Linked DNA regions of Homo sapiens. The protein of the gene in region 1 purifies or fractionates together with the protein of each later gene. This does not show direct contact. Each region holds a gene or a part of one and is shown on either strand. Other genes may lie near its edges.

The links.
Region 2: the proteins of RIOX1 (region 1) and MYO9B purify together in Homo sapiens (affinity purification with mass spectrometry; one large-scale study listed by BioGRID and IntAct). This does not show direct contact.
Region 3: the proteins of RIOX1 (region 1) and ZSCAN5A purify together in Homo sapiens (co-immunoprecipitation; one large-scale study listed by IntAct). This does not show direct contact.

The regions. Positions count from the first base shown.
Region 1 is NC_000014.9:73,489,660-73,493,755, forward strand, and holds RIOX1 (ribosomal oxygenase 1), read left to right. Parts: upstream 1-1,273; 5' UTR 1,274-1,358; coding exon 1,359-3,284; 3' UTR 3,285-3,406; coding exon of another isoform or gene 3,407-3,465; 3' UTR 3,466-3,735; downstream 3,736-4,096. Other genes in the region: HEATR4 (HEAT repeat-containing protein 4), read right to left, coding at 3,407-3,465. UniProt on the Homo sapiens protein: Oxygenase that can act as both a histone lysine demethylase and a ribosomal histidine hydroxylase. Specifically demethylates 'Lys-4' (H3K4me) and 'Lys-36' (H3K36me) of histone H3, thereby playing a central role in histone code.
Region 2 is NC_000019.10:17,204,732-17,208,378, forward strand, and holds part of MYO9B (unconventional myosin-IXb), read left to right. Parts: intron 1-531; coding exon 532-605; intron 606-1,228; coding exon 1,229-1,421; intron 1,422-1,516; coding exon 1,517-1,645; intron 1,646-1,947; coding exon 1,948-2,053; intron 2,054-2,381; coding exon 2,382-2,513; intron 2,514-3,647. UniProt on the Homo sapiens protein: Myosins are actin-based motor molecules with ATPase activity. Unconventional myosins serve in intracellular movements. Binds actin with high affinity both in the absence and presence of ATP and its mechanochemical activity is inhibited by calcium ions.
Region 3 is NC_000019.10:56,224,211-56,227,857, reverse strand, and holds part of ZSCAN5A (zinc finger and SCAN domain-containing protein 5A), read left to right. Parts: intron 1-2,684; 5' UTR 2,685-2,811; coding exon 2,812-3,195; intron 3,196-3,647.

The DNA.
Region 1 (4,096 bases):
ATTACACCCGCATGCCACCACATTGCCTGTTAAATTAGAAGCCGATTTAAGATCCTGAGTTTAAGAGCCAAAGAAGTTGTAGCTAAAGAAACAAAATCCCAGAGGGGCAGGAAGGGCAGATATCAAGAATGCAAGTAGAGAAATTCTTAACTTATTTTTCAGAGAGAGGACAATGAATTTGAGAATTTGTATTGGAGAAAAGAGGGAGAGAAGTTAGGTGGAGGAACTCCTAGATAAGGCTTCAATCAGTGAATTCATCTGCAGAGCAGAAGTTTCTGCGGAACTCAAACTGCCTGGGGGCATTCCTTGAAAAGAAGAATTCTGCACTTTTTGGTGGGAACCTGCCGGTGGAACATCCTGTTTAGAAATGAGGACATCCAAGGAACACTGCAATGTGCAGAGACTAGAAGGAAAAAACAGTCAAGTAGCCATTTCTCCTGGGGAGTCTCTAGTAACTTGATTTTGTGCTTCTTCTTGTTTTTTGAGACAAGAGTCTCACTCTGTCGCCCAGGCTGGAGTGCAATGGTACGATCTCGGCTCACTGCAACCTCCACCTCCCGAGTTCAAGCAATTCTCCTGTCTCAGCCTCCCGAGTAGCTGGGACTACAGGTGCAAGTCACCACACCTGGCTAATTTTTGTAATTTTTAAATTATTATTTATTTTTATTTTTTTGAGGCGGAGTCTCGCTCTGTCGCCCAGGCTGGAGTGCAGTGGCGCCATCTCGGCTCACTGCAAGCTCTGCCTCCCGGGTTCACGCCATCCTCCTGCCTCAGCCTCCCGAGTAGCCGGGACTACAGGCGCCCAGCACCACGTCCGGCTAGTTTTTTGTATTTTTCTTTTTTAGTAGAGACGGGGTTTCACCGTGTTAGCCAGGATGGTCTCGATCTCCTGACCTCGTGATCCGCCCGCCTCGGCCTCCCAAAGTGCTGGGATTACAGGCGGAGCCACCGCGCCCGGCCAATTTTTGTAGTTTTAGTACAGACGGGGTTTCACCATACTGGTCAGGCTGGTCTCGAACTCCTGACCTCAGGTGATCCACACACCTCGGCCTCCGAAAGTGCTAGGATTACAGTCGTGAACCACCGCGCTTGGCCGCAACTTGATTTTTAAATTGCTCTCTGAGTGTAGATTCCTTGTTTGTTTGGCAAGGGTTCTTGCCGCTGCCGCTACAGCTTGAAGCCAAACATTTAATGAAAGAGAGCGGGAGGGGCCGAATAGAAGAATGATGGGCGTGGCCAACCCCGAGGTGGCTGGAGGCCGCGCCCCCTTCCCAGAGTGCACCGCAGCCGCTGCATTCAGGAACCGCTTTAGCTTCGCCCCCGGCCGGCCGGGCGGGGAAGACTGGTGTGGTCTGGCCATGGATGGGCTCCAGGCCAGTGCAGGGCCGTTGAGGCGCGGGCGGCCGAAGCGCCGGCGCAAGCCCCAGCCACACAGCGGGTCGGTCCTGGCCCTGCCCTTGAGGTCCAGGAAGATACGAAAGCAGCTGCGAAGTGTTGTATCCCGCATGGCAGCGCTGAGGACGCAGACGCTGCCTAGCGAGAACTCGGAGGAATCGAGGGTGGAGTCGACGGCCGACGACCTGGGGGACGCGCTACCCGGTGGGGCGGCGGTGGCGGCCGTCCCGGACGCAGCCCGGCGAGAGCCATACGGCCACCTGGGGCCCGCAGAGCTGCTGGAGGCCTCGCCCGCCGCGCGCTCCCTGCAGACCCCGTCGGCGCGCCTGGTGCCCGCTTCCGCGCCGCCCGCGCGCCTGGTGGAGGTGCCCGCCGCGCCGGTCCGGGTGGTGGAGACCTCGGCCCTGCTGTGCACCGCGCAACACTTAGCGGCCGTCCAGTCGTCCGGGGCCCCTGCGACGGCGTCGGGGCCGCAGGTGGATAACACGGGTGGGGAGCCGGCCTGGGACTCCCCGCTGCGGCGCGTCTTGGCCGAGCTGAACCGCATCCCCAGCAGCCGGCGGCGAGCGGCCCGCCTCTTTGAGTGGCTCATCGCGCCCATGCCGCCAGATCACTTTTACCGGCGCCTATGGGAGCGCGAGGCGGTGCTGGTGCGGCGGCAGGACCACACCTACTACCAGGGACTTTTCTCTACCGCTGACCTGGATTCGATGCTGCGCAACGAGGAGGTGCAGTTCGGCCAGCATTTGGACGCCGCTCGCTACATCAACGGACGACGCGAGACCCTGAACCCACCCGGCCGCGCGCTGCCCGCCGCCGCGTGGTCCCTGTACCAGGCCGGCTGCTCCCTGCGTCTCCTCTGTCCGCAGGCTTTCTCTACTACTGTGTGGCAGTTTTTGGCTGTGCTTCAAGAGCAGTTTGGAAGCATGGCAGGCTCCAACGTTTACCTCACGCCCCCTAACTCGCAGGGCTTTGCCCCCCACTACGACGACATCGAGGCCTTCGTGCTGCAGCTGGAAGGTAGGAAACTCTGGCGTGTATACCGACCCCGAGTCCCAACCGAGGAACTGGCTCTGACATCCAGCCCCAACTTCAGTCAGGACGACCTCGGTGAGCCGGTGCTGCAGACCGTGCTGGAACCTGGAGATTTGCTGTATTTTCCTCGGGGCTTCATTCACCAAGCTGAATGCCAGGATGGAGTCCACTCTCTGCACCTCACCTTGTCCACGTACCAGCGCAATACCTGGGGTGACTTCTTAGAGGCCATACTGCCTCTGGCAGTGCAGGCTGCAATGGAAGAAAATGTGGAGTTTCGGAGGGGTCTGCCCCGAGACTTCATGGATTACATGGGGGCCCAGCATTCAGATTCTAAGGATCCGCGAAGAACCGCTTTCATGGAGAAGGTGCGGGTCTTGGTTGCCCGCCTGGGACACTTTGCTCCTGTTGATGCTGTGGCCGACCAGCGAGCCAAAGACTTCATTCACGATTCTCTGCCCCCTGTTTTGACTGATAGGGAGAGGGCACTAAGTGTTTACGGGCTTCCAATTCGCTGGGAGGCTGGAGAACCTGTAAACGTGGGGGCCCAGTTGACAACAGAAACAGAAGTCCATATGCTTCAGGATGGGATAGCTCGGCTGGTGGGTGAGGGGGGCCATTTGTTTCTCTATTACACAGTGGAAAACTCCCGTGTGTATCATCTGGAAGAACCCAAGTGCTTGGAAATATACCCCCAGCAAGCTGATGCCATGGAACTGTTGCTTGGTTCTTATCCAGAGTTTGTGAGAGTGGGGGACCTGCCCTGTGACAGTGTGGAGGACCAGCTGTCCTTGGCAACCACGTTGTATGATAAGGGGCTGCTGCTCACTAAGATGCCTCTAGCCCTAAATTAGTTTCTTGTTGATTGCTGGAAACAAGGCAGTAGTGATTCTCCGCTGCCACTGCTACCTTTTTTTTTTTTTTTTCCTTAAACTCACGTTCTTACCTTGATAAGCATCAGTGTGCTCACATTTACCTTTATCACTGCTTCAGTGTCACAAACCTCGGAAGGTCTTCTAGGAAGAACCATCTCATCTAGGTACAAAAGGAAAAGGAGAAGTTGGAGGTGGAAAAAAAACCCTTGATCCGTGATCATTTCAGAGCACCAACTTCATCACCTTCAGGCTTCAGTGTACTGGGTAACACTGACCATGTCGTTCTGCTTGAGACAGATATTAGATTTTTTTTGGAATTTGGATCTTTCATCTGAGTTCTTTTTCATGGGCGGGTCGGGGTCAGTATCCTGTTTGTTATTGTTAAATTTGTATGAACCTTAGAAAAGTTATTAAAGTGCCAAAGAATGTTTCCCTTTCCTAAGGCTAGATTATTATGTGGGATGGTTCGAAGAAATGCAGGAGCGGGAGGAAGATAGGGAAAATCTATAATGGCTGAAGTGAAAAGCAACCTGGGGTGGTTGTAGCATGTAAAAGGAGCATGTTAATCAACCTCTTAAGGAAGAGACTCTCAGGCTGGGTGCGGTACTCATGCCTGTAATCCTAGCACTTTAGGAGGCCGAGGCGGGTGGATCACCTGAGGTCAGCAGTTTGAGACCAGCCTGGCCAACATGGCAAAACCCCATCTCTAGTGAGAATACAAAAATTAGCCAGGCATAGTGGTGCGTGCCTGTAATCCCAGCTACTAGGGGGGCTGAGGCAGGAGGATCACT
Region 2 (3,647 bases), on another chromosome or scaffold:
AGCTACTTGGGAGGATCACCTGGGCCTGGGAGGTCAAGGCTCCAGTGAGCTATGATAGTGCCACTGCACTCTAGCCTGGGTGACAGAGTGAGACCCTGTCTCAAAAAGAAAAAGAGAAACCAAAAAGAAGGCAATCCAGGCCAGGTGCAGTGGCTTACGCCTCTAATCCCAACACTTTGGGAGGCCGAGGTGGGCAGATCACCTGAGGTCGGTAGTTCGAGACCAGCCTGACCAGCATGGAGAAACCCTGTCGCTACTAAAAATACAAAATTAGCCAGGCGTGGTGGCGCACACCTGTAATCCCAGCTACTCGGGAGGCCGAGGCAGGAGAATCACTTGAACCCGGGAGGCGGAGGTTGCAGTGAGCCGAGATCACGCCATTGCGCTCTAGCCTGAGAACAAGAGTGAGACTCCATCTCAAAAAAAAAAAAAAAAGAAGGCAATTGGCGGCCCCCGGCCAGCTGGGTGGGTGGCTGCAGGAATCTGGGGTCCCCAGCACCCTCTGTGACTCCCACCCTGTGGACCTCCTAGTGTGCAAGATGACCTGCCACAAGAAGTGCGTGCACAAGATTCAGAGCCACTGCTCCTACACCTACGGGAGGAAGGTGAGTGTACGAGGCCTGGAACTTTCTACAATGACACTCCACTCACGGCCAGGTGCACCAGGAGGTGGTGCTTGATGTGAGGGCCAAGCGAAGCATTGAGCAGCCAGTAGGGGGCGGCTGTGGCCTCTGGTTCTGCAGAACACACCATTGTCCCCGGTTCTGTACAAACTCCTTGAGGCCCTCAGGCAGGGCCCAGGCCTGTGTGTGTGTCTCAGCTCCCCCAGCCCTGCTCATCCTTGCTCCTGAGAGAGTCCTGAGCCATGCAGAGGGAGGCCCCCCAACTCTGTGCATAAGGTTGGGGTCCTGGGTGCTGGGGGTGCAGCAAGAGTCAGGGTCTACTTCTGTGAGGTGGCTGTGGGGGCTAGGTTATAGCTCTCTCCCCACGAAGGACCACCCATGCCTTGGGTGGCCTACAAAGGAAGCCCCTGCCCAGTGGCTGCCATGCTGGCCTTGACTTCTGCAGCCCCACACCCCCAACAACCACGCAGAAGGAGACAGGGAGGGACAGAACAGCAGAGGAAGCCCTGAGGGCCTTGTGCGGGACCAGGAGGCAGAGGCCCCCAGAGACAGCTGGAGAGGAAGACAGCCAGGCCCAGACCTGACCCCCAACCCCGGCACTGCAGGGCGAGCCAGGCGTTGAGCCTGGCCACTTCGGCGTGTGCGTAGACAGCCTGACCAGCGACAAGGCCTCGGTGCCCATCGTGCTGGAGAAGCTCCTGGAACACGTGGAGATGCACGGCCTGTACACCGAGGGCCTCTACCGCAAGTCGGGTGCTGCCAACCGCACTCGGGAGCTCCGGCAGGCGCTGCAGACAGGTGGGCGCTGTGGGCAGGTGGGTGCAGTGCCAGGCCCCAGGCACAGCCGTCCTGCCAGTGCGCCGCTCACCAGACCCACCCCACCCACCCCACAGACCCCGCAGCAGTCAAGCTGGAGAACTTCCCCATCCACGCCATCACAGGGGTGCTGAAGCAGTGGCTGCGGGAGCTGCCCGAGCCCCTCATGACCTTCGCACAGTACGGCGACTTCCTCCGAGCCGTCGGTGAGCCCCATGGCGGTGCGGGTGGCAGCAGGTGGCCACAGCCAGGATACAGCGTTCGCTGTGACCAGCCCAGGAGGCAGGACCACCCAGTTCACAAACTGAGAAACTGAGGCCCAAAGCAGTCGGCCCAGCCAAACCGGGTCCCCAGTTTGGGGTGGGGCCAGGACACCTCTGTAGCCATCCATTCTTGCCTGGGCACCACAGGGTGGATGGCACCTGTGCATCTCAGGTCGTGTTGGTGGGGACAACAGGCACCTTGGGGACCCTTGGGAGCTGACGTCCTCAAACCCCACTGCCTGCAGAGCTGCCGGAGAAGCAGGAGCAGCTGGCTGCCATCTATGCCGTCCTGGAGCACCTTCCAGAAGCCAACCACAACTCCCTGGAGAGACTCATCTTCCACCTTGTCAAGCAAGTGCCTCCCCACCTGCCCTCTGTGGGGTTAGGGTCGCATTGGGAACCCGCGAGGCAGCATTTCCCAGGAGGACCCGAGCTGGCGTTCTGTGGTGGTTTCGAACCAGGATGCAGACCACTGTTGGGGGTTCTGGGAGGGGGCCAGGCTGCTGGGCCGCCCGGGTCCCTTGAGGTACCTCTCTGTGCTGCGGAAGCATCTCCCAGTGCTGGGCTGTGGCACTGCTTTCCCAACAGCCACCCCAGGGCTCAGAAGTTCAGTCTCGGGGCTCCCTGGTACCTCCCTCCCTCGGCCCTAGCCATCCTCTAACTGCCAGTGGCTGTGCAGGGTGGCCCTGCTCGAGGATGTCAACCGCATGTCACCTGGGGCGCTGGCCATTATCTTCGCACCCTGCCTCCTGCGCTGCCCTGACAACTCGGACCCGCTGACCAGCATGAAGGACGTCCTCAAGATCACCACGTGAGTGCCCACCCTGCCCCGGAGGCATGCTCAGGGCAGCCCCACCCAGGACCCCACGACAGCTCCATCCATCCCTGTGTAAATAAATGTGTAAGAAAAGTCCAGAGCCGAGTGCAGCGGTTCACACCTGTAATCCTAGCTACTTTGGGAGGCCAAGGCAAGAGGATCACTTGAGGCCAGGAGTTCGAGACCAGCCTGGGCAACATAGCAAGACCCTACAAAAAATTTGAAATTGGAAATTTGTATTTAAATATAAAAATTTAAATTTCCAAATTTAAATTTTTAAATTCAAATTTTTATTTAAATATAAAAATTTAAATTTTTGTCTCTACAAAAAATTTAAAAATTAGGCCAGGCGTGGTGGCTCACACCTGTAATCCCAGCACTTTGGGAGGGCGAGGTGGGTGGATCACTTGAAGCCAGGAGTTTGAGACCAGCCTGACCAACATGGTGAGACCCCATCTCTATTAAAAATACAAAAATTAGGCTGGACGAGGTGGCTCACGCCTGTAATCCAGCACTTTGGGAGACCGAGACGGGCAGATGACCTGCGGTCGGGAGTTCGAGACGAGCCTGACCAACATGGAGAAATCCTGTCTCTACTAAAAATGCAAAATTAGCCGGGCGTGGTGGCGCATGCCTGTAATCCCAGCTACTTGGGAGGCTGAGGCAGGAGAATCACTTGAATCCAGGAGGCGGAGGTTGCAGTGAGCTGAGATCATGCCATTGCACTCCAGCCTGGGCAACAAAAGCGAAACTCTATCTCAAAAAAAAAAAACAAAATACAAAAATTAGCCAGGCCTGGTGGCATGTGCCTATAATGCCAGCTACTGGGAGGTGGAGGCTACATTGAGCTGAGATCGCACCACTGCACTCCAGCTGGGCAACAGAGTGAGACTCCGTCTCAAAAAGAAAATTTAAAAAAATAAAAAATATATATATAAACTAGCCAGGTGTGGTGGCAGGCGCCTGTAATCCCAGCTACTCGGGAGGCTGAGGCAGGATAATTGCTTGAACCCAGGAGGTGGAGGTTGCAGTGAGCTGAGATCACGCCACTGCACTCCAGCCTGGGCGACAGAGCGAGACTCCGTCTCAAAAAAAAAAAAAAAATCCAGATGGCAGTGGCCCCAGCAG
Region 3 (3,647 bases), on another chromosome or scaffold:
GGTCCTGAACTCCTGGGCTCTAGCATGTTCCCATGTCGGTCTTCCAACCTGTTAGAATTACAGGCCTGAGCCACTTTGCCTGCCACACACCCTTTTTAAAAAGCATTGCTGGATTTTCCCTTTGCACAGGGTGAAATCAAATCATTGATGAATGAGCATCAACCTACTAGGCCAATGAGAATCTGAGCTAAGTGTCCCTACCTGGGTGACCCGTGTGGTATATACTCCCAGAATTGAATACTAACTCCTGTGTCTGCCTTTATTTTTTCCTGTGTCTTGTTTCTTACTTTAACGGGGAATGAACTAAGATCAAATACAAAGTGATTTCTAGGAACATGAAACCACTTTCTTTTTTAGAGACAGGATCTCACTATGTTGCCCAGGCTGTTATCAAACACTTGGGCTCAAGTGATCCTCCCACCTCCGCCTCTGCCTCCTGAGCAGCAGCAGGCGCCCTCTGGCAAAACCACTTTTAATTCCAGAATTTCAGGCTCCCTTTTCTCTATCATATCTGTGTGCTTTTTCAATAAAAATTAATTTGCTTCTAATTGAAAACTAAAAATTGTATATATTTATGGCATATAGCATAATATGCTTTGTAGTATTACAAACATTGTTAAATGGCTAAATTGAGCTAATATTCATATGCCCTACCTCATGTACTAACCATTTTTGGTTTTGAGAATACTTGAAATCTAATTTTTTTTAAGCAGTTTCCAAGTATACAATACATTGTTATGAACTGAAGTCACCATGTTGGACAATTGCTCTTTTGAATTGATTTCTTCAATTGAAATTTGTACTCTTTGACCTATATCTTCCCAACCCCTACCCCAGCCCTGGTAACTATTCTACTCACTACTACTATGAGTTCCACTGGGTTTTTAATTATTATTTATGTTATTTACTTCTTTTTAAATTTTTTTTTGTAATTTGAACTTGTGTTTTAGATTCAGTGGGTACCTGTGCAGATTTGTTGCATGAGTATATTGAGTGATGCTGAGGTGTGAGGTATGACTCTACCCATCACCCAGGATATGAGGATAGTACCCAATAGGTAGTTTTTCAACCCTCCCTCCCTCTATCCCTCCAGAGTTTCACTGTTTTGGAGTCCACGTCCTGATTTCCTTTCCTCTGTGTACCTGCCCCGGAGCGGGATTGCCGGATCATGCAGTTGTTGGACTTTCAATTTTCTGAGGAGCTTCTATACTGTCTCCCATATCGGCTGCTCTAATTTACATCCCAGCACAGGGCGCAGAGGACCCCTTTCCCCCAAATCCTCACCAACACTCGTTCCATGTGTCTTTTTGGGAACAGCCACTCTAGCAGGCGTGAGGGGTGCCTTGTGGTTTGGATTTGCATGTCCCTGATGATGAGTGATAATGAGCACCTTTTCCTAGACCTGCTGGCCATTCACATGTCTTCATCTGAGATGTCCACACAGGCGCCTTAAGCCCTTCTAGTGGGTTATGTGTTTTCTCGCTCTGGAGGAGTTTGAGTTGCTTATGTTTTGCACAGGAGCCCCGTGAGATGTGTGGTGTGTAAATATTGTCTCCTCCTCTGGGTTGTCTCCCGCCTCTGCCGATTGTCTCCCTGGCTGTCTCTCTGTTCTGCACTTGCTCAAAGTCCTTCCAGGAAGTGTGGGGCACTCGCCCTCCAGGCTACCAGTGACTTTTCCCAAGACCCTTCTGCCAGTTTTTTCTCCCCTCTGCAGACCTTCAGGTTGCTTCCCCCACCTGTGTCTAGGAAAGCAGGGCTGTGTTCTCATAGCTGTTGAACTTGGACGATAATTGATGCCTGGAGAGTATCACTCAGTGGCTCCTGCCTAATGAAGCTAGGTTTAGGAATTAATTTTTAAAAATCTTATTATTGTATCAACCCACTTCTTTAAAATATCAAAGAGCACTAGACTTTAAATCCATTTTCTGAGATGAGATTAGGAATACAGAAACCCTTAGAGACAGAAGGTAGATTAGTGATTGCTAGGGGCTGGGGTGGGTGGGCAGGGGGTGATCACTGATGGGGATGGGGTTGCTTTTGGGTTGATGAGATAATTCTGGAAGTAAACAGTGGTAATGGTTGTACAACATGGTGCATGTCTTAGTCCCATAAAATCGTGAACTTGAAGAGAGTAAAAAATGATGAAATTTATGAATGTACATTTTACCAAAATAACAAAATATCTGTGTAGGTGCTTAATCCTCATAGGATCCTTTAATGCTGTCCCTTCCCTGGAGCAAGTAAATGTTCTGGAGTTAACAAGAATATGTGTTGGGGAAAATATTACATTCTAACTCTTTTTCTCTATCCTTTTGCATAATTATGACTAAGGGCTTTGCCTTGGATCTTGTCCTGATGGGGAAACATAAAGGGCTTACTTTATTGTTGCATCACATTTTCAGAGCTTCACCTAACTATCTTATTTAATTTATAGTCAAGAACAATGTTGTTCCAATTGACAGGAAAACTGATTCAGCCTCTGCACAGTGATTTCCTAGAGATCAGAATCCAGGGGTCATTAAGATTTTAAACCAGAGTATGTAGTCAGGTATAGACACTGGAAGATTTCCACTGTGCTGAATTCGATGCTGCTGAAGAAGTGGCATCCAGGATGAGGGATTTCGAAGGGAGGGATGGATGGAGTAGTAACTTAAACTAATGAGGCTCATACTTTTCCCCCCCAGACTTCTGAATGAACAGTGAATCTATTACTGAGGAAAACCAGAGGAAGCCTGTGTAGATAGGTATCAATTAGATACCAGCTACTGGAAGAGCTTTCTCAGAGACTGATTAAAAAATTCTCCACTAGATATGGCTGCAAATTGCACATCCTCATGGAGTCTAGGAGAATCCTGCAACAGACCTGGGTTGGAGCTGCCACGGTCTATGGCATCCTCAGAAACTCAACTTGGAAATCACGACGTGGACCCTGAGATTTCTCACGTGAACTTCAGGATGTTCAGCTGCCCGAAGGAGTCGGACCCCATCCAGGCTCTGAGGAAACTCACTGAGCTGTGCCATCTGTGGCTGAGGCCCGACCTCCACACCAAAGAGCAGATCCTGGACATGCTGGTGATGGAGCAGTTCATGATCTCCATGCCCCAGGAGCTCCAGGTCTTAGTCATGATGAACGGTGTGCAGAGCTGCAAAGACCTGGAGGACCTGCTACGAAATAACAGAAGACCCAAGAAATGGGTGAGTGGGACCCTCGTGATTGGTGCAGGGAAGGGGAGCTGGGATGGGGGCTGCACGGTGCAGCTGGACTCGAGAGGACCCGAGGGGCTGCTCTAGGTCAGGGCTTCCAAGTAGAGGAGAGTTTGCCCGTCGGGGACACATGGCAGTGTCTGGGGACAGTTTTTGTTGTCAGGGAGGACAGGAGACGCTGCTAAGCGTTCTCTAACGCTCAGGACAACCCATCATGACAAATAATCATCCAGATTCCAATATCAGCTGTGCTGAGACGGCAAGTTCCTGGTGTAGGAGATGGACAGGCAGAGGGGGTACAGGGACCCACACACTGTGTGAGGCCAACATGAAAGAAAGACATTGGTGAAATATTAGGCCTGATGGAATGTAGGGAAGGAGGCATTAGAGTGAACTGAAGGGGGGCCCAGGAGTCCCATCCTGAAGCAGGGAAAGTGGTTGGT